Linked DNA regions of Homo sapiens. The protein of the gene in region 2 purifies or fractionates together with the protein of the main gene of each other region. This does not show direct contact. Each region holds a gene or a part of one and is shown on either strand. Other genes may lie near its edges.

Region 1 (7,035 bases), on a different chromosome or scaffold from region 2:
CCCGTTCTTCGACAGCCTTTTGCCTCACTGACAGAACGGTCACACGACTATTACATGCTTCTGGGTGTGTGCGCGTCTCCTCTCAGATCGTCAAAATCCTGCTCTCCTACCCCCACCTTTAGGAATATGGCAGCTAGCTTTACTTACCGAGAACCCGCTACTGTGCTTCCCAACAGTGTATCTTACCTCATGCAGTCCTGTGAGACAGGGGCTTCTCCCACAATTTACAGGCTTGCAAACTGAAGCTTGGAGGTTTGATTAAGTAACTTTCCCAGTATAAAAACTGCTATCTGAGGGGACTGGGATTCAAATCCAAGTTTGTCTCAAAAATCAAAGCTGTTGCCCTTACCAGCCCACTTCAGTAAACCCTAAAAGCAGATAAAGAGCACAAACTCCCAGGGGGTTGGGCCTATACAAACCTCAAGTCTCTCATTTTAACTCTGAACAGTCCTGTAAAATGTCTACTCCATAGTATTTAATATAAAAATGTTTAAAATTGCTGACCAACACGCTAACTTACCCTTCCTTGGGCAAAATCATGGGTAAAAACTGATGGGCCAAGAAAAGACACCCCACTAACCTGTGACTCTGCCCATTCACCAGCCTACTGTTTCGCACTCTGGAGTTGCATCAGGTCCCTCAGCAGGCTCAGAGAGCTGAGATGCCTCCTGTAATGTTGGAATCTAGTTGTCAGTGGTCCCTGGCTAAAAGAGTAACAGGAAGGCAACTGAGCCTAAGCTTTAATCCCTAACTTCCTGTGACTGTGTGACTAGGGTAAGTCACTTGTTGCCTCAGGTTTCTCCAGCAGATGGGGCATAGGGGTAAATCATACTCCTCATGGAGCTCTCATTAGGATGCACTAAGAACACAGGCAGTAAAATGTTAGATGAGACAGGACAAAAACACTTACAAAAACTGAGGTGTGGATAGAAAATTTCTTCCTCCCAAGTCCATTGGGTATCTGAACATTAGGAAAAAATAAAGATGTCCAACCAGATTTCCAATAAGCTCATTGATTACCCTGCAAAGAGAGCCAAATGAGTTTAAAGACATTCAAGCAATAGAGATGCACCAAGTTTTAACTAATAGCATAAGGAAGAGAGCCTTCAAGGCAGCCCATTTAGTCCCTGGGAGTCTGTGAGAGCTGACAATGAGCACTTTTGTAGTCTGAGTGGCAAATGCATTCTGAGGGAGACGGGAAATCAGTCCTGCTGAACCAATGAGGCCTGCCACTCTTCAAGGCCAGCAGCCCCTCTGACCTCTCTTTCAAGCACCAGCCCATCCTCAAAATATTGTTTTTGCTACTTCCTGCCTCAAGAGTTGGGGAAGTTGCAAAGCATGCTTCTGAATGCTTTCAGTCATGAATATTGTATTTATAAAATGTGGGCAAACATGAAGGCTACCAAGAGAGAAGCGTGGGAGTAAGGAAAAGAGGAACAATAAATGCCTGTTCCCCCTTTCCTGGAGCCATTAAGCACTTCTCCCTTGCCTCTTGTATCCTTGAGTGTAAGACACCACAGAGATCACTTAGGAAAGCCGACTTGCACCCTGAAATCAACGCTGACCTTCTTCAGTTTTCCCTTGGCTTACATACAGGTCACCTCAAGAGTGTATAGATCTACTGTTACTATTACAAATCCTCTTTGTCTTCACCTGCAACATGATTCCCGTCAGGGGCAAATCAACACCTGCAACTACTTCAGACTTCACCTTCCTGGGTGGAAGAGCAGCTTTGCCAAGTTCAGAACATGCTTTGCTCTAAACAGTCTGCTCCATCCATTCACTTCTCCCCAGCAATATGCAGAAGAAGTTAGGATCACACAGAGCAAATATGTCAGACACATGAAGAACCAGCAATATAAAAATGGATTGAAATATTAAAAGTAGTTTGTAGTATAAGAAATGGGAGTTCTGGCTGGGTGCAGTGGCTCATGCCTGCAATCCCAGCACTTTGGGAGGCCAAGGTGAGCGGATCATTTGAGGTCAGAAGTTTGAGACCAGCCTGGGCAACACAGCGAAACCTCATCTCTACAAAAAATACAAAAATTAGCTGGGTGTGGTGGTGCACACCTGTAATCCCATCTACTCGGGAAGCTGAGGCATGAGAATTGCTTGAACCTGGGAAGCAGAGGTTGCAGTGAGCCAAGATCACGCCACTGCACTCCAACCTCGGTGACAGAGCCAGACCCCATCTTGAAAAAATAAATAAGTAAATAAATAAACAGAAAAAATGAAGAAATGGGAGTTCTTAGAGAAGTTGCATCTTGGTATCCTCCCTTTAAAATTCTGACTGGATAAATTAAAGCTATTCCTATGTCTAGCTCTAATTCCTGACCAATAGACTAGATATTTGACCCTGGTTGGCCAAAAGTTCTGTATTATCATCCAGGCATGGTGGCTCATGCCTGAAATCCCAGCACTTTAGGAGGCCAAGGCAGGCAGATCATTTGAGGTCAGGAGTTTGAGACCAGCCTGGCAAACATGGCAAAACCCCATCTCTACTAAAAATCCCAAAAAAAAAAAAAAAAAAAAATAGCCGGGCATGGAGGCGGGCGCCTGTAATCCCAGCTACTCGGGAGGCTGAGGTAGGAGAATTGCTTGAACCCATGAGGCAGAGGTTACAATGAGCCAAGATCGCACCATTGCACTCCAGCCTGGGCAACAAAAGTGAAACTTCGTCTCAAAAAAAAAAAAAAAAAAGTTCTGTATCATCAAACCACTTGCAAAATTATATCCTATCTAAGAATCTGGATTTCTATGACCGATAGGCAGTTTCCAAGGCATTCTGGAAATGCCTTAAGAATATAAGACATAGTAATTTTATACATAGCTCTTAGAGGAGCCAACTCAGACAAAAATTAGGTCTCTGTTTGCCCAATCAGAATAGTGAATCCAGAAATACATATTTATTCCTGTACTATACACATAGGAACATACTGTGTGTAACAATAAGTTAACAAAATCACAACCATTCAAGGTTAAATATGCTTAAAGCCCTGCAATCTAATCAATTCAATCGAAGTGAAATTATTCCATAAATATAGGGTTCTAATGCGTCAATGTTGAGATTCTTTAAAGTTGTATAAAGGTTAGAGAAAGATAAAAACTAATGGAAATTTTCCAAGGATTAGTTTCCAATTAAATAAATCTAATATCACTTACGAGCCTCCGATGATATAGTTGAATCCAAGGATAACCCAGGGTAAATAGCAGGCCTAGGATGGAATGAATATATGCAAATGTGAGTAGCCACACCTGACGAGGACACAGCTACTACGGGGACTAAAGTGGGTAAGGATACACTGACAAGGGCTTTATATAAATCCTCTGGAAGGTCACTGCAAAATTTCTAGGATCAATCTAGCATTATTCCCACTATACTTAAACCTTCCTATCTAAAACTAGACTTAATTGTGTATTTGTAACTGGAAGGACACAGTACTTTGCCCACAGGTCTGATGCAATACAGGCCCTGCTGAACTGCTATAAACAGACAGCTTCAAAAAGCAGATGAGTGTCCTACAGATGCTACTAAAAGCAAGGCCCATGAGAGAATCACACTAAGATTCCAGCCAACAAATTGCTACAAATAAAATAAACATACCCCATCTTTTTAGGTTCTTCTTTTACATATCTTGCAAAATTCCTCTGAATTTTTATCTCATTATGCATTGATATCTTAAACTAATACTCTCCCAAATAAGAAAGCTCTCCAGATGAACTCAACATTTGAGCCCCTTACCAAATCCAAGACATCATACCAAGAGCTAAAGGAGTTGCAAGAAACTTCACAAACTAGGAAAGAGAGGGTTATACTCAAATAACTTTACAGCTACATGTGCTAAGTACTAAAGAGAAACACAAAGTATTGAAAAAGCCCAAACGTAAGACTAATTCTAGGCAGGAGATTCAGGAAATATGTTCAGTTCCAACTCAAATTAAGAATGGGTAGGATTTATACAAAGAAGAGAATCAAGATGTTACAGGTGGAAAATTGTGAAAGAATGTACAAAGAGAAGTGTTTGGGGGCAAAAACAATCTGTTTCAGCTACAGTATAAAGCAAATAACAGGGAACGAGGGAGGGATAAGAACAGATTTTTAAAGCAGGGTTTCACATGAGTTATCTCTCCTTCTCTCTAACACAGACACATAAGATCACTCAGGGACATAACCTTGAGGGGCCCGAGGTACAGAGGGAGTGAAGAAACAAAGGCCAGCAACGGACTCCAGGCTGGCTAATTAAATAGAGCTGGGATTGAGGAGGGCAGAAAGGGGCTTGCCTATGGTACACTGCTCTGCAGTGACCCCTTCTGGATGAGTCAGAAAGTACATCTCTGGACTGAAGAGGGATTTCTGCAGACAAATGAAAAGGACACTTTTCCAACCAAGGCAAAGTACCTTAAATCGTGTTCCAAACCAAAATGATACAATCATGTCTCTGTTCAGCTGGGCCCAGACATAAAGTACTGACATGATCAGAGGAATCATCAGCAACTGCAAAAGAAGTCGACATGTAAAAACCAGGCTCCAGAGGCACTTAAAAAAGGTGTACATCTACTATGCTTTTTACCCCTCCTCTTCACAACAATCCTCACCTGGGTAAAGGGAAACTCAACTGATCAGAATTATAAATTGATCCTATTATTTATCATACAATAAATATTACAAAATCCTATAATAAAATACAACAAAACTATATTATTTTAGATGGATTCAGAAATGTAAGAGTCAAGCTCTGTTATTTACAAAAAGTAAGCAACAAAGCATTACCATATAATCTCAATTTTTAAAAAACATCCATATACATGCCTAGAAAATACTAGACAACCACTGTTGTCACATGCCTAGAAAATACTAGACAACCATTATTGTCAATGTTCAAACACCAAAAAGAGGCCAGAAATGAGCAAGGAAAGCAATGATTTAGATAGCTCATGTAAGATCTTCAAAGATTTAGCTGACTTAAGATCCTCAAAATAAAACAGCTATAGGCCAGGCACGGTGGCTCATGCCTGTAATCCCAGCACTTTGGGAGGCCGAGGCAGGCGGATCATGAGGTCAGGAGTTCAAGACCAGCCTGGTGACATGGTGAAACCCCATCTCTACTAAAAATACAAAAATTAGCCGGGTGTGGTGGCGTGCATCTATAATCCCAGCTACACGGGAAGCTGAGGCAGGAAAATCACTTGAACCCGGGAGGCGGAGGTTGCAGTGAGCCAAGATCAAGCCACTGCACTCCAGCCTGAGCAACACAGCAAGACTCCATCTCATAAATAAATAAATAAATAAAACAGCTGTAATTCCATAATTTCAAAATACCACATAATTAACCCCATAGTTAATGCAATTTCAACTTCTGACAAAGGCCACTAATAGTATATTTGAAACAAATAAAAGGGCAAATAGATAGTTTAAATGGACACTTACCTGCATATCCATTGCTAAGCCAGTAATCTTGGTTTGTAAAGTTAAAGATCAGACATAAAAAAGCATTCTGTACCTAGTCAAGACTGATGTGGTTATTTTCCTCCCATTTAAAAGTTCACTTGGCCAGGTGTAATTTGGCTCATGCTTGTAATCTCTGTACTTTGGAAGGCCAAGATGGGAGGACTGCTTGAGGCCAGGAGCTCCAGACCAGCCTGGGCAACATAGCAAGACCCCATCTCTAATTTATATACATATTTTTTTAATTAAAAAAATTTTTAAGTTAATTCCAGTGTTCTGAAGGAAAATACTTTTCTATAGTTCAGATTGCTTAAAACATTCTACAACACAAAGGTATCTAATCTTCATTATGCATATTCCATTAGACGATACCATGACAAGGACATAGTAGAAATCAACAGCTTCCGCATATGACTTAGTCTGGTCATCTGGCATCCTTTTTCTCTGCTATTGCATTTTAACATCTCTCCTTCAAATAAAGGATGAAGATGCCTGTAGCCTTTGAAGGAAATAATCATTCTACTTACATTCTCAGGACTCTATAGCATGGTTAAAGTCCAAAATATTTTTTCCTTCCCTCAAAGGAGGGGGGAAAGGGCATCCACAGTGCCACATTTTCTGGCCCTCAGCCAAGTTTAAATGGCAGCTGAGCCCAAAGGCAATTTTGAGCTCACCAATTTTGCACAGGACCTGAGACATCGAGAGCTGCTGCTGCTCTCACCATCTGTAAGAGTCCTGCAGTTGGAGGGCTGCTGACAACTGCTATTGATACAAAGCAGAGAAACGTACTGTGTCCCTTCCCAGAGCTGGGTACTTCACAGAGGGACTGAATTACTATGTAGGACCCCAAGAGAAGGACAGCAATGAAGTCAGAAAAGGATGCTGGTTGTAAATTAATTTTCTGATAAGGACCACAGATTTCAAAAGCTGTCTCATGGCACGGACTCTCTTTGTGCCTCAGTCAACAAGCTGTCACACATGAGAACACAGAGAACTGGGAACAAGAAGAGGGAACAGTCATAAAACTACTCAACCAAAGGTGGAAAAAAATCCCACAAATGGTAAGAGAATGCATCACTCAAGGGCTATATGATTTACTACAGTTTTTTTTAAAAAACTATAATTATTCTTATTAACGGTAGTCAACCAAGATGCAAATATTGTAATTTGAAACGTTTACAGAATATGGTCTATTTCCCCAAACCTGGAAAAAAACTGGTTTATTTCTGGCCCAAAATCACAGACTGAAGGATACCACGATGCAAATCCAGTTAAAGAGGAGCATGAATAAATAGTCTGCTGGCCTCCCATCAAAAGCTCCTGGAAACAAAAACAAGCCAAATGTCATGGTTCAGAATTTCACAACAAAGTAACATCTACATAGAGAAACACTTCAAAAAGTTACAGAAAAAGCCAAAATGAGAACATTTTAAAAACCACTCCTCTCTAAAAAAGTGAATTTTTAAAAATATCTAAACAACGTCCCCAATAAAGCCCTGAATCAAAGTTACCTGAGTAAGGTTAATCTATGCTCTCCTAACTGAATTCCAGTAAGTGACATGCTCTGACTACCACAGGCTAAAACAGAC
Region 2 (7,000 bases):
CCTTTCTCGTCGATGGTCAGCACAGCCTTATGCACGGCCTGGAGGGGAGAGAAGCAGAGACACGTTGTAAGGCTGATCCCAGGCCTCGAGCAAGGCTCACGTGGACACCTCCCAGGAAGCGCTCACTCCCCCTGGACGGCCCTGGCCCTGCACATCCTCTCCCTCCCTGTCACATAGGCCTTGCTCCTCCTCAAGGCTTTGGCTGATGGGGCTGGCTCCCCTCTGTCCATCTTCCTGACAAGCGCCTCTCCCCCTGCTCAGGTGCACCCACAACTCAGAACAGGGAAGAGCATCGTCACTCCACGTCTGCCTCCAGGGCTCTCTCCTTTCTAGTACACGGCTTGAAGCTCCTTGAGGACACGGACCCTGGCAGTGACCTTCACAGTGCCCAGACCCCAAGATAATGCAGCCATTCATGGAACTGCAGTTGTTCATTGGTCGCCTTTAGTTTTCCAAAATAAGTGTCATCTTTAGCTGAAATCATTCATTAATTCAGACACCAAATCTCACAGATCGAAGGAGTCAGAAATTCCTTTGAAACAACTTAGCCCAAACCTTTCTGTGTCAGTATGGATAAATCAAGGCCCAATGTCTAGAAGGTCTTGGGCAAAGTTGAAATTCAGGGTCAGTGACACAACCTCAAGGGAGGCCCCGAAAGTGCCAGCTGCACAGCAGTCCCCTGCCTGGCTTTGCTGTTTGACCACGTCCCGTGTCAGTGAATCACGGGCATCTTCAGGAGCTCAGCCTGGGTCTTCATTTGTTTCCCTCGGCCCCTTCCTCAGCCTCAGGACAGAGCTGCAGCCCCCACACATTCTTCCCTACAGATACCAGGGTGCAACAAGGTCGTCAGGGTGATCTCACCTTGGAGAGCTTCAGGGGTGCCTCCTCTGTGACCCCGGAGAGGTCAGCCCCATTGCTGAAGACCTTAGTGATGCCCAGTTGACCCAGGACGCTCTTCAGATCATAGGTTCCAGTAATGGACAGTTTGGGTAAATGTAAGCTGGCAGACCTGTCGTGCAGAAAAGAAATTCAAGGCATGGCACAGCATTCCTCTTGTTCTTCTGGGACCCACCACAGTGCAAGTGTTTTCTTTTCTGATTATTTCTGCCACTTACTCCTGTGTCCTCCACCCACACTAAGATGGGAACTCGGCTTTGGTTTGTTCTACTTTTAGCTCTTCTACATTGAGTCAAAGAATGTTAACATCGAATGAATCACAAAAGCTTGAAATGCCACCTCCTCTGATATTCTAGGTGTCCTGGAAGCCTGTCTCATCTTGCCCTGTAGTGTTGGGTCACCTGGCCCCCAGCCTGTAACATCCCCAGGGCCCTACACCCAGAGAAACACGGGGCTGGTGGCAGTGCCCAGTGACAACCGTTTAGTGGATAAGAGAAGAGTGACCACACCAGGCTGAGTGCTCCTCTCTGGTTTTCCATGGGGAGACAATGCCACCCTGAGCAGGGTCTGGTGTGAGCGGGCAGCTTGGCTCTGGGCTCTCTGATCCGTTACCCTCTCAGCCTCTTTGTTCTTTCTCAACCCCTGGAGCAGAGACCTCAGGAGGTGCTGGCATGGAACAGAGAAATTCCAGCCTCGATTCCTATTATGAACCCGACACCTTTTGTATTTTCATCTTGGTTTTACAGTGTACAAAACGAACTAGATCAGCAGGGCATGGGCATAATCACGAATGCACACACATACACTAATGTGTGGCTCATGTTTAAGTATCACTTACTACAGGACACCCAATCTAACAGCACCGATAAAGTGACAGAGAAACGCAAGCCTTCTGCGAACATGGCCTGGCTGTTCCAATTCCGAACCTTGCTTTTCTGGGCCTTGCCACACAGGCTCTTCCCCCGTCCCCCCAGGGACATTCTACCCTTGAACTCCACACTCCACTGCTGCCTTTGCCAGGAAGCCCATCTGTTCCTTTTTGGTTCTGCCAGAACGTGTGGTGGTGCTGCTGTCCCTGCCCTGGGCACTGGATATTGGGAAGGGACAGTGTCCACACTGGAGTGGGAAGTCCCCAGGGACGAGACCTTTACCTCCTCACCCCTGGGTACTGTCCTCCTCATGGAGCATGGATGGCGCTGCCTGAACTCAGTGGTGGCCTCATTCTGGAAGCCAAGTTTATACAGAGTAGCAGTGACCCAGGGATGTGGGGTTCACCCTCCTCAGCCCTCTGGCCAGTCCTGATGGGCCTCAGTCCCAACATGGCTAAGAGGTGTGGGCAGCTTCTTGGTCACCCTCAGGTTGGGGAATCACCTTCTGTCTTCATTTTCCAGGAACTTGGTGATGATATCGTGGGTGAGTTCATTTTCCAGGTGCTGTAGTTTCCCCTCATCAGGCAGGAAGAAGATGGCGGTGGCATTGCCCAGGTATTTCATCAGCAGCACCCAGCTGGACAGCTTCTTACAGTGCTGGATGTTAAACATGCCTAAACGCTTCATCATAGGCACCTTCACGGTGGTCACCTGGTCCACGTGGAAGTCCTCTTCCTCGGTGTCCTTGACTTCAAAGGGTCTCTCCCATTTGCCTGGAGAGAGGGGAAGGTGGGCATCACCAGGGGTGAGTGAAGGTTTGGAAGAGTGTAGCAGAATAAAGAAACCATGAGTCCCCTCCCTGAGAAGCCCTGAGCCCCCTTGACGACACACATCCCTCGAGGCTCAGCTTCATCATCTGTAAAAGGTGCTGAAACTGACCATCCAAGCTGCCGAAAAAGATTGTGTGGGGATAATTCAAAACTAGAGGAAGATGCAGAATTTCTACATCGTGGCGATGTCAGGCTAAGAGATGCCATCGTGGCTGTGCATTTTTATTGGAATCATATGTTTATTTGAGGGTGTCTTGGATATTACAAATAAAATGTTGGAGCATCAGGCATATTTGGTACCTTCTGTCTAAGGCTCCCTGCCCCTTGTTAATTGGCAGCTCAGTTATTCATCCAGGGCAAACATTCTGCTTACTATTCCTGAGAGCTTTCCTCATCCTCTAGATTGGCAGGGGAAATGCAGATGCCTGAGCAGCCTCCCCTCTGCCATACCAACAGAGCTTCACCATCGAGGCATGCAGAGTGGACAGGGGCCTCAGGGACCCCTGATCCCAGCTTTCTCATTGGACAGAAGGAGGAGACTGGGGCTGGAGAGGGACCTGGGCCCCCACTAAGGCCACAGCAGAGCCAGGACTTTAGCTGTGCTGACTGCAGCCTGGCTGCTCTCCACTGCCCTCCTTTGCCTCAAGAGCAAGGGAGCCTCAGAGTGGAGGAAGCAGCCCCTGGCCTTGCCTCCCACCTCCCCTCCCCTATGCTGTTTTCCTGGGACAGTGGGAGCTGGCTTAGAATGCCCTGGGGCCCCCAGGACCCTGGCATTTTAACCCCTCAGGGGCAGGAAGGCAGCCTGAGATACAGAAGAGTCCATCACCTGCTGTATGCCACACACCATCCCCACAGTCTTTGTCATTTGTTTAATCCTAAAAAAACCTGACAGCAAGAATGGTATTTTGTCCATGCTAAGATGAGAAATTAGCACCTCAAAGAGGTAGAATGCATTGTTTTTGTCAAAAGCTAATTGTGTTAGAGGCAGGATTTGAACCCAGGTCTTTCAGATTGCAAAACTGATACTGATTCTGGGACACTAGAGTCGTGTAAAGTATGTTCCATGAAACTATCCCTTTATGCAGTGTATTACAATTTGTTCTATAGTTCTAAGCATTATATATTCTACATATACAGTATACACAAGGACATTAAAGGCTCTGAAAAGTTCTGCAGAGCTGTCAGTAGTTTTGACAGTTTAATCTATTATTTCCTCAAATTACTCAATGATGGAAAACATTTTAGTGTTTGTGTGTAGAAAACTGAAGAATCCACGCTGAAAAGCATTGCTATGGCCCATAATGCATTGCCAAGGAGAGTTCAAGAACTGATGGTTTGAGAATATTTTTGCTTGTTTCTATGGGAACAGCTCAGGCTGGTTGAGCAACCTTACCTTTAAAGAAGATGTAATTCACCAGAGCAAAAACTGTGTCTCTGTCAAGCTCCTTGACCAAATCCACAATTTTCCCTTGAGTACCCTTCTCCACGTAATCGTTGATCTGTTTCTTGGCCTCTTCGGTGTCCCCGAAGTTGACAGTGAAGGCTTCTGAGTGGTACAACTTTTTAACATCCTCCAAAAACTTATCCACTAGCTTCAGGCCCTCGCTGAGGAACAGGCCATTGCCGGTGGTCAGCTGGAGCTGGCTGTCTGGCTGGTTGAGGGTACGGAGGAGTTCCTGGAAGCCTTCATGGATCTGAGCCTCCGGAATCTCCGTGAGGTTGAAATTCAGGCCCTCCAGGATTTCATCGTGAGTGTCAGCCTTGGTCCCCAGGGAGAGCATTGCAAAGGCTGTAGCGATGCTCACTGGGGAGAAGAAGATATTGGTGCTGTTGGACTGGTGTGCCAGCTGGCGGTATAGGCTGAAGGCGAACTCAGCCAGGTTGGGGGTGATCTTGTTGAAGGTTGGGTGATCCTGATCATGGTGGGATGTATCTGTCTTCTGGGCAGCATCTCCCTGGGGATCCTCAGCCAGGGAGACAGGGACCAGGCAGCACAGGCCTGCCAGCAGGAGGATGCCCCACGAGACAGAAGACGGCATTGTCCTGCAAGACAGAGATGGGGGGGCCAGGCCCCGAGTCAAGGCACATGATGACTCCCAGTGATCAGGGATTGACACCACGTGGAAGTGCCTAGGGATTATTAAACCAGCCTGTGCCAAGTACTTGCCGACATCAGTAACACTGAAAGAATCAGAAGAATAGCAAAATGTACGTAGTGCTTACCATATGCCAAGCACTGTTCTCCGTGCTCACATGTGTTAATTCATTGCTTTCTTGTAACAATCCCGTGAGGTGCTAATGCTAATATCCTTCTTTTACAGATGAAGAAACCAAAGCCAGAGAGATTAGGTCAGCTATTCAATGTCACTGAGGAAGTAGCAGAACCAGAATCCTACATCTAGGTCCTGCACCCAGGCTCTGGACAGCAACACTTACATCTGCAATGACCCTAAGATGCAAATGGTACAGCCATTGTTTTACAAAAGAAGAAAATGAGGCACAAGAAGAGGAATGGGCCTGCCCACGATTATCCAGGAATCGGGCCAGATCAGAATCAAGAATCATGTCAAGCTGGAAGCCCTTGGAGGGCTTCTATCTAATCCCACTATTTAGTGGCCAGGGAAACTGCTGCACAGAAGGGAAATGCATCTTGCACAATGGCAACAGCTAGAGAGCATGGAGGGGCTGTGATTAAACCTCCTGGGAGCTGTTCCCACCCAACACTCACAAGGATCCTCAGCCCTTAGGGTTTTTTTCCCAAGAGACGGGGCTGTCCCCACAATGCTCTGTGGTCCCAGACACAAGAATAGGCTGATGCTCCTGCAGTCAGCTTACCTGCCGTCTGGGTCACTAATGGTGTCCCAGTTCTGGGCTCTTGCTGTCAGGGGCTTTAGAGACGCTCATCTCTCCTTGAAAGCAGGGGTTTGTGCTGCTTTAAAGTAGATGGAGGAGGTGGGAAGTGAAAAGACACCTCTTTTAACTTCAGATAGACCTGGGATCTAATCTGACTCTGTCACTTTCCAGGTGTATGAGCCAGGACAAGTCATTCATCTCCCTGGTCCTCATTTTGCCTCATACATAAAGTGATGTTTATGTATGAGAATTTAGTGAAATAAGTCTCAACACCAAACCTTACATCAAAAGGATCTGAGAGGGCAACTCTTTTGAGGGAGGGGTTGGCAGGTGTTGCAAATTCAAAGGCTTCAGGTGATAGGCCAGTGAGGAATACATGTTTCATACCCGGGGCTGAGACAATAGGGAGTGGTGGGGCCTGTGGCTGAACCAGCGAGAGCAGGCTCTGCCGAGCAATGGTCAAAGTCAACGTCATCCACAGCAACACAGAACCTGCCCTGCCCCACAGTGATCCTTCTACTCCAGATATGCCCAGGCTTCGGACCACCAGCCTGCAGCCCCCTAGGTAGAACCTGCCGTCTTCACAGATGGGAAAACTGAGGTCCTAGCTGAGGAGAATATGCCCGGCAGCCACATTGTTAACTACTAGTCACAAAACCAAAACCATCATCTTAACAAAATACAAAGAAAAAGGTGTCCTTGAATTTGGGAAATGAAAAACTGGAGAAAAAAAGCTGGAAATAACAAATATTGAGATTCTTCAACCCCCTTGGACTTTTAAAAGTTTCCTTCCAATAAAGCAACAAATGAAGTGCAAAGCTGGTTTCTCTCCACCACCTTTCTCCTGGCCCTCGTGCCTCTAAGTAATCCAAATGGAACAGACCACACATTACATAATACATGTTTGTATTTTTCTTCAGCTAGCTAGTGTTGTTAGAACTAAAGACGGTGCTAAAATTAGTGCTGTATATTTCCATCTCCCTTTAATTTCTCTTTCACTTCCCAACTGAACTTTGTGCAGTCCTTCATGGCTTATGGAAATTCCCCCATCATTACAGGGCTCAGTGGTCAGGAGGGAGTTGGGCCTCTGCAGGGTGGGGACACTAAATATGCTGAGTGGCCTCAGGGCCAGAGGTTGTGGCTTCTAGCCCTGGCAGGGCCATCACTATCCACTTGGCCTTTAGCAAGAATCCTCTGGTCCTGGGGCCTCACTCTCCCCAGTTGTGCAAAGTGGGGCTGGGAGAAGACTTCACTGGGGCCCTCTGTACACTAACATAGGTTTTTGGGTTTTTTTTGAGACAGAGTCTCGCTTTATCTGCCAGGGTGGAGTGCAGTGGCGTGATCTCGGCTCACTGAAACCTCCACCTCCCGGGTTCAAGAAATTCTTCTGTCTCAGCTTCCCAAATAGCTGGGATTACAGGCGTGTGCCACCACGCCTGGCTAATTTTTGTATTTTTAGTAGAGCTGAGGTTTCACCGTGTTGGCCAGGCAGGTCTTGAACTCCTGACCTCTTGATCCGCCTGCCTTGGCCTCCCAAAGTGCTGGGGTTAC
Region 3 (7,035 bases), on a different chromosome or scaffold from region 2:
AAGTACTATGATGTAGTAATTCAAAACCTCACTAAAGAAGGAACCATTAAAGCAGCATCCTCAATTTGCACTTATATTTCTACTTGTAATCCTCCACAGTTGATAAAATTAGAAATGTATCTGAAAACTTCTGATTTATACTGGAGTCAGAAAATAGTATAATTCAAAATGAGTTTTTAAAATTCTTACAAATTAACAATAAAAACAAACATACCAACAGAAAAAATGGGCAAAGGGCTGAATATGCAATTCAAAAAGGAAATCCATGTGGTCAATAAACGTGAGAATGTTTGCTCTCACAATAATCAAAGGAAAGTATATTAGAAACTGAGATCCCGGCAGGTGTGGTGGCTCATGCCTGTAATCCCAGCACTTTGGGAGGCCGAGGAGGGTGGATCACCTGAGGTCAGGAGTTCAAGACCAGCCTGACCAACATGGCAAAACCCTATCTCTACTAAAAATACAAAATTAGCCGGGTGTGGTGGCGCATGCCTATGATCCCAGCTACTAGGGAGGCTGACGCAGGAGAATCGCTTGAACCCAGGAGGCGGAGGTTGCAGTGAGCCGAGATTGAGCCACTGCACTCAAGCCTGGGTGACAGAGCAAGAATCCGTTTCAAAAAACAGCAACGACAACAAAAACAAAACTGAGATCCCTTCTACTGCCCAAACATTAGCAGGATGGGGGTGGGGGCACAGCCTGGTATAGGGAGTCAAGAGCCCCATCAGACCATGCACACATGGAGGTGGCCTGACGAGATGTTAGCCCGAGTAGGATGGGGAGGCATCCCTGTAAGAGGGCAGCCTGGTCTGGGGAATCTGAGGGTGAGTGAGATAAGCAAGGCATCCATATGGGAGAGGTGGAGACTATCCCGAAAGACTGGTTACATATGAGGGGTAATTAGGTAGGTAAAACATTAATCATAATAAGAATCAGGTTAGGACAGATGGAAAGGGCAGATGGAAAGGAGTGGTACATTCATACAACCAAATAATATTCAGCAATAAAAAGGAACAAATTACCAATAAATACAAGAACACAGATGAGTCTCAAAAACATTATGTTGAATGAAAGAAGCCTTATACCAAAGAGTACATGCATACTGTACAATTCTACTCATGAAGTTGTAGAACATGAAAAACTAATCTACAGAGGAACAAAACCAGAATAGCAATTGCTTCTTGGGGGACAGGTACAATGATTGACAGGGAAGGACATCAGGGAACTTTCTGGTTGATGGTAATTTTCTGTCTTGATAGATACACAGATGTGTGCATTTATAAAAACTCAGTTGACACACTCAAGATTTGTGTATTTTGTTGCACATAAATACTAAACTCTAGTTACTGATATGCACACTCAAGTATACAAGGAATTAAGTATACATATAATGGCACATACATTTTGGATTGGAAAGCTAGATGTAGGGATAGGTGTGCAATAAGAATAGGGAACTATTAATTACAGAATCTATGTGGTGGCTACATGAAGCTCACTCCAATTTTTTTCTGATTTCCTATAAGTTTGTTAATTTTCATAATAAAATATTGGAGGAAACCAATAGGAAAAAAGCTAGAATGAACCATGAGGTAGTACTAGAAATGGGAGTATAGTATAAACCCATGTTTTAAAAAATACATAGATCTAAAAATATACACATGTATACATTATCATACATACATACATATAATTCCATTGCTCTGTTCACTGAGAGGATCTGGGAATAGCAACACTCCAATAGCAATGAGCACATCTAGCACCCAGATCTTGGCTTCTAAATACCATTCTCCACTTTAAAGGAACCAGGGCTCCTTGAAGAAACAGCTGATTCTAGGACTGGATCAAGGAGAGCACAGGATGAGCCTGGTATATCTTGTTGTGCCAGAAAACAATTGCAAAAAAATAAAAAAATAAAAAGTGGGGTGTAGTGGCTCACACCTGTAATCTCAGTGCTTTGGGAGGCCAAGAGACAAGAGGATCACCTGAGGACTGGAGTTCGAGACTAGCCTGGGCAACATAGAGAGACCTTGTCTCCACAAAAAAAAACATTTAAGAAAGAAAATAAGCAGAGCTTGGTGGTGTGCACCTGTAGTCCCAGCTACTCAGGAGGCTGAGGTGGGAGGATCACTTGAGCCCAGGGGCTTGAGTTAACAGTGTGCTATGATCATACCACTGCACTCCAGCCTGGGCAATGGAGTGAGACCTGTACTGCATATGTAATTTCTTGTAGGACTGAAATTGTTTCAAAACATTTTTTAAAAATCATAAACAATGAGACATCATCCTACAACTATTCAACTAGGAAAGGGTAAATAAAATGCCTTCCTTGTTTGATTAGGATGTGGGGAAATGAACAGTTATAAATGCTAGTTGAAATGTAAACCTGAACATCCATTCTGGAAGGCGTTTGGCAACAAAATAGGAATTCTACTTCTAGGAATTATCTTTTGAAAATAATCATGGATGTGTGCAGAGATTTAGCTACAAGGACATTCACCACTCCAATTACAGAAGAGAAAACCAAGCACTAACGTCAATGTCCATCAACAAGGGATTAGTATAATTACACCATATCCATACCATGGAATATCACCTGTTATAATTTTATAACACTTCAGGGTGGAAAAAACAATTATGGCATACTAAGTTTACAAGGTTACAAAAATTGTTTTTTGAGACAGGGTGCCACTCTGTCCCCCAGCCCGAAGTGCAGTGGTGCGATCTCGGCTCACTGCAGTCTCAACCCTCTGGGCTCAAGCAATCCTTCCACCTCAACCTCTCGAGTAGCTGGGATTACAAGTACATGCCACCATATGCAGCTGATTTTGGGATTTTTTGTAGAGATGGGGTTTTGCCATGTTGCCCAGGCTGGTGTCAAACTCCTGAGTTCAAGTGATCCGTCTGCCTTCACCTCTCAAAGTGCTGGGATTACAGGAATGTGTTATGTTGTCCAGGCTGGAATGCAGTGGCTATGTTAAAGGCCTAGCCCAAGAAGAGCAGTGGCTGTTCACAGGCGCAATCATAGTGTATGCAGCCTTGCCTGGCTCAGCGTTTTTTAAAAAGTACACAAAGACTGAAGAATACACATTGAAAAGTTAACAATGGTGGCCACTGCTATACCCAAGTGTCGGGATAGTGGACAATTTCACTTTCTTCTTTTTTGCTTACTATTCTACAACAAACATTTTATAACAAAAACTCACATTTTACTTCTCAATTGAGCCCTTTTTAATATGGCATCTCCCAAGGATACCAAATTCCAGAGTAGAAAGAGGTCTCATAAATCAAAGTTCTACTGCACTCCAGCCTAGGTAACAGAGTGAGACTCCATGTAAAAAAAAAAAAAAAAAAAAAAAAAAAAAAGAAAGAAAGAAATCAAAGTTCTATCTCAGGAAACTGAAGTGCAAAAAAGAAAGGACTTGCTCTATGGCTGGTCAGTGGGACAGCTACACCTGGTTTCCAGTCCAAAGCTATTTCCACTCTGCTTCACTGCTTATCTCAACCACCTGCTTGGCAGGCCACAAAGTCCACCATCAGAAACTTTCATCAGTTTTGCCCATTTTGCTACCTTACTTCACTAAACGTGGACAGCAGCTTTCATAAAACCAGCAGGCTCCTACCAGAATAGAAGTTCTAGTGGTCATCTCTAACAATTACCAGGTTACTCCCAAGATATCTTGAGCCTGTTGACGTTGGTCTTGCCACAACCCTGGCACTGTCTGCTCCTACCCAGTCCAAGTGCTCTTCAACTGTAGCCAGAATGCTCAATCTGCAAATGGTTACTGACCTGAGCTATGTGTACTAGGAGCTAGGGGAGCCAAAGAAAACACAGATCATGCCCCTGTCCTGGTTTGCCTGTAAGAGTATGTAACCTGGTGTTAAATACTCACAAAATAGATGGTGTTTTCAGAATTCTTATTCCACCAGGTTGATTGGGAAATACATCTTCCAAGAAAAAATATATGTGTCCAACTGCAATACCTAGAGTCAAGCAGAAATAAAGGATGAGGGAGAGAATTAAAATTTAGATTGCAGGTAGACCTACCAACACAAATTGCCTATATTTAGGATGAATGTCAACATAATTATTAAAAATTAATGAACTAATATTGTGGTATTTTACAATAGGTAATACGTGAAGGCCAAACAGAATAAACATGAAAAATAGTAACAAAATACTTTTACAGGTAAAATAATTTAAAAAATAGTGAGAAGAGCCTTACCCAAAAGGTCCACAATGATTGAGTTCCCCAACAACAAGGAAAATCCCATGAGCACCCAGGGCAGAAAGGGGGCCTGGAAGTTGAGAAGGCCGAAGAAGTTCATGCGGACATAGGGGTTCCTTCGGCTCCACACATAGACGAGCATTATTGTAAAGGCCTGGCCCAAGAAAACTAAGCTCACAAACAGACCAAAAAGCTAGCAGATGGCATTAAGGAAAATATCAACATTAAAAGTTTAATAGGAAAGACTGAGCAGGAGAACTAAAGATTGTGTTCTAACAGAAGTTTGAATTGGAAAAGTCAAGTTGTTACATCTTTAGAATAGAAGGAGAAACACCCAGAAAATAATTACCCAGAGCAATCAGGCAAAAATCTGCTTAGGCTAAATTATCGAGATTTACAGCTACTTCAAACAAATACTCTGCTTTCGTGAAGTTCTTGCCTCTTTGGAAAATGTGTTAATTCTTCAGTCAATAATTATATTAAAGCTTGCTCACGATTAGCACCTTTACAGAGATGAATAAAGCTAGCTGGAACAAAACCATCTTGTCAGACCGTACCATATCTAAGTCTATTGTATAGATGAAAATTCTTTTTCTGAAAAAATAATTTATTGGTTTTGGTAGCCACCAAGTAAATGTCTTACCAACTTAGTTTAAAAGTGAAGTACGCCAAGCAGTAATGATATAACTGAGTTGCTTAACAGTAACCCACCTGGGTTAAAAGTTCCTTTGACTTGCTCATCCTGTCCGACTGCTAGGTTTGGAAACTTGTCACAGAAAATGTGCTGTAAAATAAATGATAGTGCCCTGAAGCTAAGATCTAGAGAACTGTGGGAGACAGATGACAAGCTTTAGGAAGAGCCAGGGTGTTCTTCAACATTTTCCCGTGTTGTTTGTTGAAGGATACGGTCATTAAGAATCCACCAAAAAGGAACATAAATACAAAGTCTGCTGTCCGACCTCGGAAAGAGCCTTCTTCTAGCATTCGACAGTAACGATATCTTAAGTTCCAAGTTAAGAAAATATTAAGCACACGAATATGAACAAAGTAAAAATTTAATGTTATCTTGTAAGTACACTTGGATTCCATATTATTTGTAATTAGTCAAGTCTTCATTTGTATAAGAATGTTTGAGTGGTAATGTGATTACTTTTTTACCAAGCATTTGAGAAAAGGTCAAGACCAGCATCATTTTTTACAAACTGTCCCTGGCTGGGAACTAATCCAGATGACACACAGACATGCTTTCAGTCCCCTATTCTTTTTTTTTTTTCTTTTGAGACAGAGTCTCGCTCTGTCACCTAGGATGGAGTGCAATGGTGCCATATCGGCTCACTGCAAGCTCCGCCTCTCAGATTCAAGCGATTCTCCTGCCTCATTCTCCTGAGTAGCTGGGATTACAGTTGTGTGCCACCATGCCAGGCTATTTTTTGTATTTTTAGTAGAGAGCAGGTTTCACCATGTTGGCCAGGCTGGTCTCAAACTCCTGACCTCGTGATCCACTGCCTTGGCCTCCCCAAGTGCTGGGATTACAGGTGTGAGCCACCACACCCGGCCCTCCAGTCCCCTATTAAACCTTTAAAAATTTGTATTGTCTTTCCTGTGCTCAGCCACACCTTAATATGCACCATCTTTGCTTTCCCACATCCTAACTTGGAAGAAATCCGCAGCAAGAAGCCTTGTGTGCTCAACTACTTTTCCAGCCTGGCAGGTTGAGCACCTCAGTCAATAAAGATGAATTACGATGAGAAAAAACTTTAATGGAAACTTATCAGAATGATATCCTACATAGGATATAAAATGGATTCCTGCCATCCTCAGGAAGGAATGCAGCTGCAGATGAGTTGAACTGTAACTCCCTCTTAATACAGAGGGCAGGGGTGGAAGAGGAATGCCCTGCTCTGTGGCCCCAATTACCATTGGATCAGAGCTGGGGTTTTCCTTTCAACAAACCGGAACTTGACAAGCCCAGCAGACACAACCACTGTCTTTCAGCCAGTAGTTCCAGCAACCAGGACCCAAGGAGATCTCAGGTTCCCACTCCTCATGAACCCATTCCAAAACTTATGCCCAAATTCTGCTGAATTACCATTGCATTCAGGTTGTTTTACGGCTTCGAACCTGTTGGTTACTGTGGAGGTATGCCTCAGTTAAATCAATTCTCCCCTCCCTTGATCAGATTTGTAAGTAACAAAAGAGCAGAAGTGCTATCTTTTTATGGTTAAAACCTCCCATTTGAACAAAGTGACCTACAGACATTTTCAAAACATTACTACCTAAGCAACTACTTTATGTACCACTGACCCAGAAATCATAGCTAAGATGGTACCAAAAACAAGTAACAGGATGAAAAGTTTCAACTTAATTTTTTACTTCCTAAGAAAAAGTTTTGATGCTGACCCCATTTAATAAAGGATACAGAAAAATCATGTTAAATAAAAAATTGAATCCAACTGGCCCAAAAAATAAGAAGTTGGTGATTAATCTCCATATCTGTTAAAAAAAAATCAAGAGAAAGATGTATTAAGTAAAATAAATTACCAGGAAACAGTTCCATATTAATACAAAAGAAACATCCTATGACTGCGGTGGTTGAGAAGCCTTGGACAGAGTGATACTCTGTTCTGAAACAAAAACGGGGGCATATAATCTGATGTTAGATTTTTTTTGCTGCTTTTAGTTCAAAGTCTGAAAGACATCATTGGGACTGTGACATTTATAATAATAGGAAAGAAAATTTTAAATTGTGATCGTCGTATGGAGAAAGTTTGCTGGAAAGACTAGGTTAATCGGCAGAACAGAAAACAGT
Region 4 (6,889 bases), on a different chromosome or scaffold from region 2:
GGTTTACCAACCAACGGGCCTACCCAGCTCAGGGCACAACCCTTCCCTAATGCCATCCCCACCTCCTCAATACTTCTAAAACCCTCTTTCCAATAACACATCTGTCTCAAAGCAACCTGACCTTAACTTACGCATAACCAAACCAATGCATAACCAAACCAAAACACTCATCGGCAGCCTTCATCCTGAAATAAAGGCCAACAGCACACATGATACCACAAAGACCAGCAAGTTAAATCAACCACCACCTCACTTTGCTGGGAAGGGATTCTTAAGGTTCTCCAGAAGCGCTTTTAAGGTTCATTAAGAAAAACATTAAAATGTCATCAACTCACTCTCCAAACCGTCATATTCTCAAATGAAAGTGTTATCACAATTCCCCGTTAAACTGTTTTCAACTTCAGTCCACCTGATAAAAGGTAATCTGAGAAACAGTCTGTGAGCAGGAATAAAGGCACTTATTGGAAGTGCTCTCTCCCTTCTTGTAATACCAAGAGCACTAGTGGAAAAGCACAAATTAAGATCCAAAATATGTACACATACTATGATTGCAACTATGTAAAACATGCATAGACATATGGGTAGGAACTAGTGGCAAAAATAAATTTAAAATAGCTGGTGGGATTTTATGATATTTTTCAAACTTTAATGATGTTGATTTAAAAAGAAAAAACATCAAAGCATGATGTAGGCTGACAACAAAAAAAAGACCACAATTAAATGAAGTTTATCCCCCCCCCCAAAAAAAAAACTAAGAAAGAAAATACATTTATAGGTATAAAGTCCCCTCTAGTTAAGTGAGCCAAATAATTCATTCATTTCTTAAAATCTGGAAAGACCATGGCCGGGAGCGGTGGCTCACGCCTGTAATCCCAGCACTTTGGGAGGCCCAGGCGGGTGGATCACGAGGTCAGGAGATGAGACCATCCTGGCTAATACGGTGAAACCCCGTCTCTACTAAAAATACAAAAAATTAGCCGGGCGTGGTGGCACGAGTCTGTAGTCCCAGCTACTCGGGAGGCTGAGGCAGGAGAATCACTTTAACCACAGAGGCGGAGGTTGCAGTGAGCGGAGATCGCGCCACTGCACTCCAGCCTGGGCGACAAAGCGAGACTCCGTCTCAAAAAACAAACAAAAAATCTGGAAAGGCCAAATACTTTTTTTTCAAAATTTAATATTTTTTCTCAAAAAAATTGAGATAGAAAATACACTTATACGTATAAACGCTATGGTTAAGCAAGAAAAACTCATCGGTTTCCTAGAATTTTGAAAAGGCTCAGTCCTTTGAATTTAGCTTGGGATGTCCCCTTGCTTCGGTAGAAATCATGCTCTCAAACTGCAATTTAAAACATAAATGTGTAAATAACCACACCATTTTAAAAACCCAACTCCGTTTAGTCTATAGGCTTCCTTATCAGAACCTAAGGACTGGACTCCACTGCTTTCCTCCAGGTGAAGGAAAATGCTTGCCCCAGACGGTGCCAAGACACTGAGCAAACCAACTCCTCCACTCCCATCCAGGGGAGGGGAGTCAACTATTTGGACTAACAGGGTCTATGGCAATGCACATTCCTTCCCTACAGGTAAGAGGTCCTTAGCTGGGTGTACTGCCCTCTTGGACTTTGATGTCAACAGTGGTGACCCTTGGAGCTCAGCCTTTGCAAACAAGGCTGGTGAACAGGGAAGACTGCCTGACCTTCCCGGACAACCACGCCACCAGAGGCGGGGGATTTATAGACAGATCGTACAGGGCGATGACGTTGACAGTCAATCTGGCATCCAGTGAATTTCACCTCAAGTATCTGGACCCCAAAAGTGGGCCACATAGCTTCCCTCCCCACCACCTAACTATCCTCAGCCTAAGAAGCAGCCCCTGTGAAGGAGAGGCTGTAACCCCGTTCTGCCTCAAACTCAATGGACGGCTTTGGAGAAGTCAACTATAGGCTTTTTACATAGAAAAGACGTGGGTGTGGCAATGTGATAGAGGTGGGGGTGCGAGGTAAAGGCTTGTTCTGAGGCTGCGTTTACACGGGGGGCATGATGGAGATTTCATTTAGAGTTTATGCTCATCCGGAGGAAGGGGTCGGATGGAAGTGGAAAGCCCTCCAAGCCAGCCCTTGGCACTGCCACTGTCCCTTCTGGTCCTGGACCTCAGTATCCTCACGCGTAAGACACTGAGCTGGACAGCAGTTCTGAAGTTTGGAGATTCCGGGAGAATCAGGAGAGGAAGGCCACCGGCCCACCCCGCACCCTCAAGCTCGGGGGTCTTCACAGGGACTCACACGGGACAGGGCGCGGGAGCGCTGCCCGGGACCCTAACGGCCCTGGCGCCCTCGGGGGCCCCGGAGGACAGAGGGCTGCACCCCGGCGCGGAGGGCGGAAGGAAGCGCGTGGGCGCGCGGCCCCGGGCGGCGGGGGCTACTCACGGGTCCCCGCGGTCGGGCCCACGGCCGCGGCAGTGGATGGGGTTGAGCTCGTCCTGGGGGAAGGCGTGAGCCATGTAGTTGTCGTAGCCAAAGACGAACATGCCCCGTGCCAGGTCGCGCATCTGGGCACGCAGCTGCGGAGGGAAGGCGCCGCTGTAGCGCTTCTCGTACTCGTCCGGGCCGCGGCCCCGGCCGCCCAGCACGTAGCCCCAGTTGGCTGGGCCGCACATCCCCGGCCCAGGACGCCGCGGAGCCTTGCGCGGGCTCTGCGCTGCCCCGGTCCCCGGCGGCTGCAGCCACGACGGCCCGGATACCCCCCCAGGCCGGCCCACGGGCCCCGAGGTGGGCGACGCGGGGCCGTCGGGGCTCCTCAGACGCTGGAAGCCGAAGCTGAGCGGAAAGCGCTGGTAGAAGCCCATGCTGGGCCCCAGCCCGAAGACGAGCCACAATACTCCATGGAGGCCAAGCCGGAGGAGCACCAGCCCCAGGACGAGCGCTCGCCATTGCATGGTCGCGCGGGCGCCGCGGGCATTATTTTAAAGCGCGGGGGCCTCCCCGCCGACCACCGCACCCCGCGCTCGCCCCGTAGCCCGGCTCGCTTCCCCTTTAAGGAACTCCCCCGTGACGCACCAGGAACTAGCCCATCGTCCCCAACCCCCAGGCTCTCCGGCGGGCCGGCCAGGCCCCACGGTCGCCCGCCCAGTGGCCCGGGATTGGCCCGGCCTGGGCCCGGCCTCGCGGGGCGCGGCCCAGGACTCCCTCCCACGCAGTAGGCCGCCAGGACGTCCGCGACGCCCCGAGGCCCCGCCCCTCACCCGGGCCCCGCCCCAACTCCCAAGCCCCGCCCCCCTGGGCGGTCCGTAGCCCGATGGGCTGGCGTGGCGAGCAGGAGCCGCGCCGGCCCGCGAGGGAACTTCCAGCCAATGGGAGAGCGGCACGGCAGCGCCCGCCGGACGCTGGACACAGACGTGACCCCAGACCGCCTGGCCTTGGGTGGATCGGGTCTCTGGGCAGAGCGTGTGTCCGGCAGAGCTAGGACCGGAAAAAGCCACTCTAGGTCTAGGTTAGGAGTGATGACAGTTAAAAGATATATAAGGAAAAGAAGGAAAGGATCGTTTCTGTATAAAACGAGCTATTTTTGCATATCGAGCGCATAAGTTTTATAACTTAGGTGTCTGTTTATGGAGAGGGTGGGATACTACCTTTTAGCTCAAGGAGTGCACAAAACGGTATCATGAATTCTGCTCTTTTGATTCAAACACCCAACTTTGAAGAATCGCTCATGGTGCTTGTAAAACACGTATCCCCAGATCCCTCCCTAGACCTATCGAACAACTCCAACGGTCTCGGGAATGTGCGTGTAAGTACTCTTGGACAGTTCTTAGAAACTGGAAGTTTCAGGAAATACAAAGTTATGTTATATTGCTTTTGTCTCGGAAATAGGATTTTTTTAAAAGGGGGGGGCGGGTTGGGGGTGGGAATGAAGGCTCCCACCACCACCAAATTATTTACCAGATATATCTAAACATGTCTTCTCCTGTCCCTCCCATCCTACCATCTCTCCTGTGCACCCGCAATTAGTGACCTAACCTTTGAGGTGTGGGGTAGATTCCCAGTTAAATAACTTTACCCCTCTGTATCTACTTCCTATAATTAAGAAGATTGCAAATGTTAGCTCTAAAGGGCTATGGCTTTCACATAAAGATTCAATGGTTTAGGCGCTTATTTATTTTGCTTGCTGCATTTGGAGTTGGCTGTAAGTTTTGCCCTCCCTAAGTTTAGACCCTATGCCTGTTTCATCAGGGTTTCTGAAAAGCTTGGGAAGCAAGACCTGACTAGACCCCCAAATCTGATATTGGCTGAATGGCCGACCAATGGAGTGCATAAGAAGGTAAGTTGTCATGTGGCACTCTCATCACATTTTCAGGGTAGAGGACTTTCTGAAATACAGAGGAGGTGTAAGGGGAACTAAGAAAACACTTGATTACAGCACATGGTAGCTGGCACATAGGAAGGTCCTTACTGTTGGCTGAGCCTTGTTCTTTCCCAACATTGAGACATCGAGAGCAGCCCAAGCAGCAAAAAGATTACGAAGACAGCTTGAGCCAGGGTCTTTAGACTACACAGCTTCTGCTTTTTCCCCTCTGTGAAGGATGCCTAGGGACTGTGCTGGCAGCCCAGCTCCAGCCCTTGATCCTGAACTTCTGCCTTCCTGGAACTTGCAAACTGAATGTGAATATTCAGTTGCATGTTGCATGTTTCCTTCCGGGGCTACTTTATTGCAAATTTTAACTTAAATTTGACCTGGTTAACTGCAGGCCACATTGAGGACAGCTTCTGTCTTGATGTTAGAGAAAAACTCTTATAAAAATAAATCTTTTAATAACCAGAGAAAACCATCCAACTCCTGAAAGATGCTTTTCATAGTAAAACTGATGGTTTTCAAAACACTTTGACATGTGTGCTTATTTAATCTTCATAGAAAACTGTAAAGCTTATTCCACAAGCCATAATGGAAGAAATCAGGTTGGGGGCTCAATTCTCAGAGCCTGTTGGCTCTAGGCAGAAAGGGAGTTACTACACTTTAGGGCAATTTGCACTTCAAATAGCTGGCCCTTGAGCAGACAGGTCCCTCTGCTCTTTCCAAGCCACCCAAAAGCAATAGTTTTGACATTAGTGCCCTGCAAGGCATAGCCTAGGCATTAGGGTCTAGGTTCAGAAAGTGTTTCCTTCTGGAATGAAACTGAAATGAAAGAAATGGGTTATTTTGTGCTAGTCCTTTCGATTAGGACTCTCCTTAAGCTAAATGTACTGATAAGATTGGGACAACACCCATACCCAATCAGAAAACTCCAGTCTTGAAAATCAACTCTTTAAGATAAACAGTTTGATTTGTGACAGGTTTTCCGGTAATCTCACAAGCGCATCAGGGACTGATAAAAAAGGAAAGGAGGCACTTTTTCAGTGTAAAAATGGCTTTACTCTGGGGAATGCAAAGAGATGACAACTAAGAACTCACATTCAGAAGTCAGGTGTTCAAATCGTAGCTCTGCCCTAAGAGTGACCTTGGGAAGTTACTTTTCTAGGACTTGTTTCCTCATCCATAAAATGGGTGAGTGATGAGGACAATGTTTATCACAGTTGTGATTACATCATATATATATATAAAGTACTTACAACCGTGCTACATAGTGAGACCTATTAATACTTTTCAACTCTGAAACTTTTAAAACTAGCACCCGGCTGGGCGTGGTGGCTCACACCTGTAATCCCAGAACTTTGGGAGGCCAAGGCAGGCAGATCACTTAAGGTCCGGAGTTCAAGACCAACCTGGCCAAAATGATGAAACCCCATCTCTACTAAAAATACAACTACCCGGGCGTGGTGGTGGGCGTCTGTAATCCCAGATACTCAGGAGGCTGAGGCACGAGAATCACTTGAATCCAGGAGGCAGAGGTTGCAGTGAGCTGAGATAGCGCCACCACACTCCATTCTGGGCAAGAGAGTGAGACTGCGTCTCAAAAAAAAAAAAGTATTTCAAAAGCAGAGGTTTTGCAAAGCTGAAGGCCTAAAAAAAAGTATATAATTACAGTTCAAACTTATTTGATGGGCACAAATCCAAGTTTGTCAACATGCTCTGTTAGCAAGATACAGGATACTCGAGAGGCTGAGGCAGGAAGATCCCCTGAGCCAGTAGTTTGAAGCTGCGTTTCCTATGATCGTGGCTGTAAATAGCCAATGCAATTACCTGGGTAACAGTGAGACTTCATCTCTTTTTTAAAAAGGCATAGGGGACTGGGACTGGTAAAAACAAAAACTAGTACTTCCCGTGTGAAGGGTCATTTGGCAATTCCTAGTGTCAGAAAAAAATTACAACAAATTTACTTACAGATCTAACTGGCGTTTATTCATAACTTATGAATGGGGCAGCCTCCATTCTACAAAACAGAATGAAAGCTCCCAATGAGAAACAGCAGAATAGTGGGTTTTGTAAGATGAGAGCAAGGAAACAAAACAATGAAAAATAACTGATTGGTTAACATCGGGTTACTTTTTTTTTAAGGGTTAAAGAAGAAGGGACTTCCTTATTATTCTGATTCAGACAGACTGGGATTTTCTGTTTTCAGGAAAAACTGGTCTGTAAAGTTTCCATGTAACTGTGTGGCACTTAATATATGTAACTACTTTGGTCTGCTAGGACCTAGTGCAGAAACTCAGTCCACAAACAATGACCCCCCATAATTTTGGTTTAACGTTAGCACAAGTCGCCAGGCGCGGTGGCTCACGCCGGTAATCCCAGCACTTTGGGAGGCTGAGGCGGGTGGATCACTTGAGGTCAGAGTTCAAGACTAGCCTGGCCAACATGGTGAAACCCCATCTGCACTAAAACTACAAAAATCAGCTTGGCATAGTGGCACATGCCCGTAGTCCCAGCTACTTGGGAGGCTGAGGTAGGAGAATTG

What was found.
Region 1: the proteins of SERPINA1 (region 2) and DERL1 purify together in Homo sapiens (affinity purification with western blotting; 4 studies listed by BioGRID). This does not show direct contact.
Region 3: the proteins of SERPINA1 (region 2) and DERL2 purify together in Homo sapiens (affinity purification with western blotting; 3 studies listed by BioGRID). This does not show direct contact.
Region 4: the proteins of SERPINA1 (region 2) and EDEM1 purify together in Homo sapiens (affinity purification with western blotting; 2 studies listed by BioGRID). This does not show direct contact.

What each region holds. Positions count from the first base shown.
Region 1 is NC_000008.11:123,018,285-123,025,319, forward strand, and holds part of DERL1 (derlin-1), read right to left. Parts: intron 6,767-7,035; coding exon 6,702-6,766; intron 5,456-6,701; coding exon 5,429-5,455; intron 4,496-5,428; coding exon 4,400-4,495; intron 3,216-4,399; coding exon 3,163-3,215; intron 1,022-3,162; coding exon 911-1,021; intron 1-910. UniProt on the Homo sapiens protein: Functional component of endoplasmic reticulum-associated degradation (ERAD) for misfolded lumenal proteins. Forms homotetramers which encircle a large channel traversing the endoplasmic reticulum (ER) membrane.
Region 2 is NC_000014.9:94,378,603-94,385,602, forward strand, and holds part of SERPINA1 (alpha-1-antitrypsin precursor), read right to left. Parts: intron 4,778-7,000; exon of another isoform or gene 4,640-4,777; 5' UTR 4,636-4,639; coding exon 3,990-4,635; intron 2,540-3,989; coding exon 2,269-2,539; intron 1,010-2,268; coding exon 862-1,009; intron 39-861; coding exon 1-38.
Region 3 is NC_000017.11:5,476,164-5,483,198, forward strand, and holds part of DERL2 (derlin-2), read right to left. Parts: intron 6,720-7,035; coding exon 6,646-6,719; intron 5,227-6,645; coding exon 5,133-5,226; intron 4,980-5,132; coding exon of another isoform or gene 4,938-4,979; intron 4,420-4,937; coding exon 4,224-4,419; intron 3,982-4,223; coding exon 3,891-3,981; intron 1,837-3,890; coding exon of another isoform or gene 1,794-1,836; exon of another isoform or gene 1,686-1,793; intron 1-1,685.
Region 4 is NC_000003.12:5,183,852-5,190,740, reverse strand, and holds the start of EDEM1 (ER degradation-enhancing alpha-mannosidase-like protein 1), read right to left. Parts: upstream 3,035-6,889; 5' UTR 2,936-3,034; coding exon 2,427-2,935; intron 2,421-2,426; exon of another isoform or gene 1-2,420. UniProt on the Homo sapiens protein: Extracts misfolded glycoproteins, but not glycoproteins undergoing productive folding, from the calnexin cycle.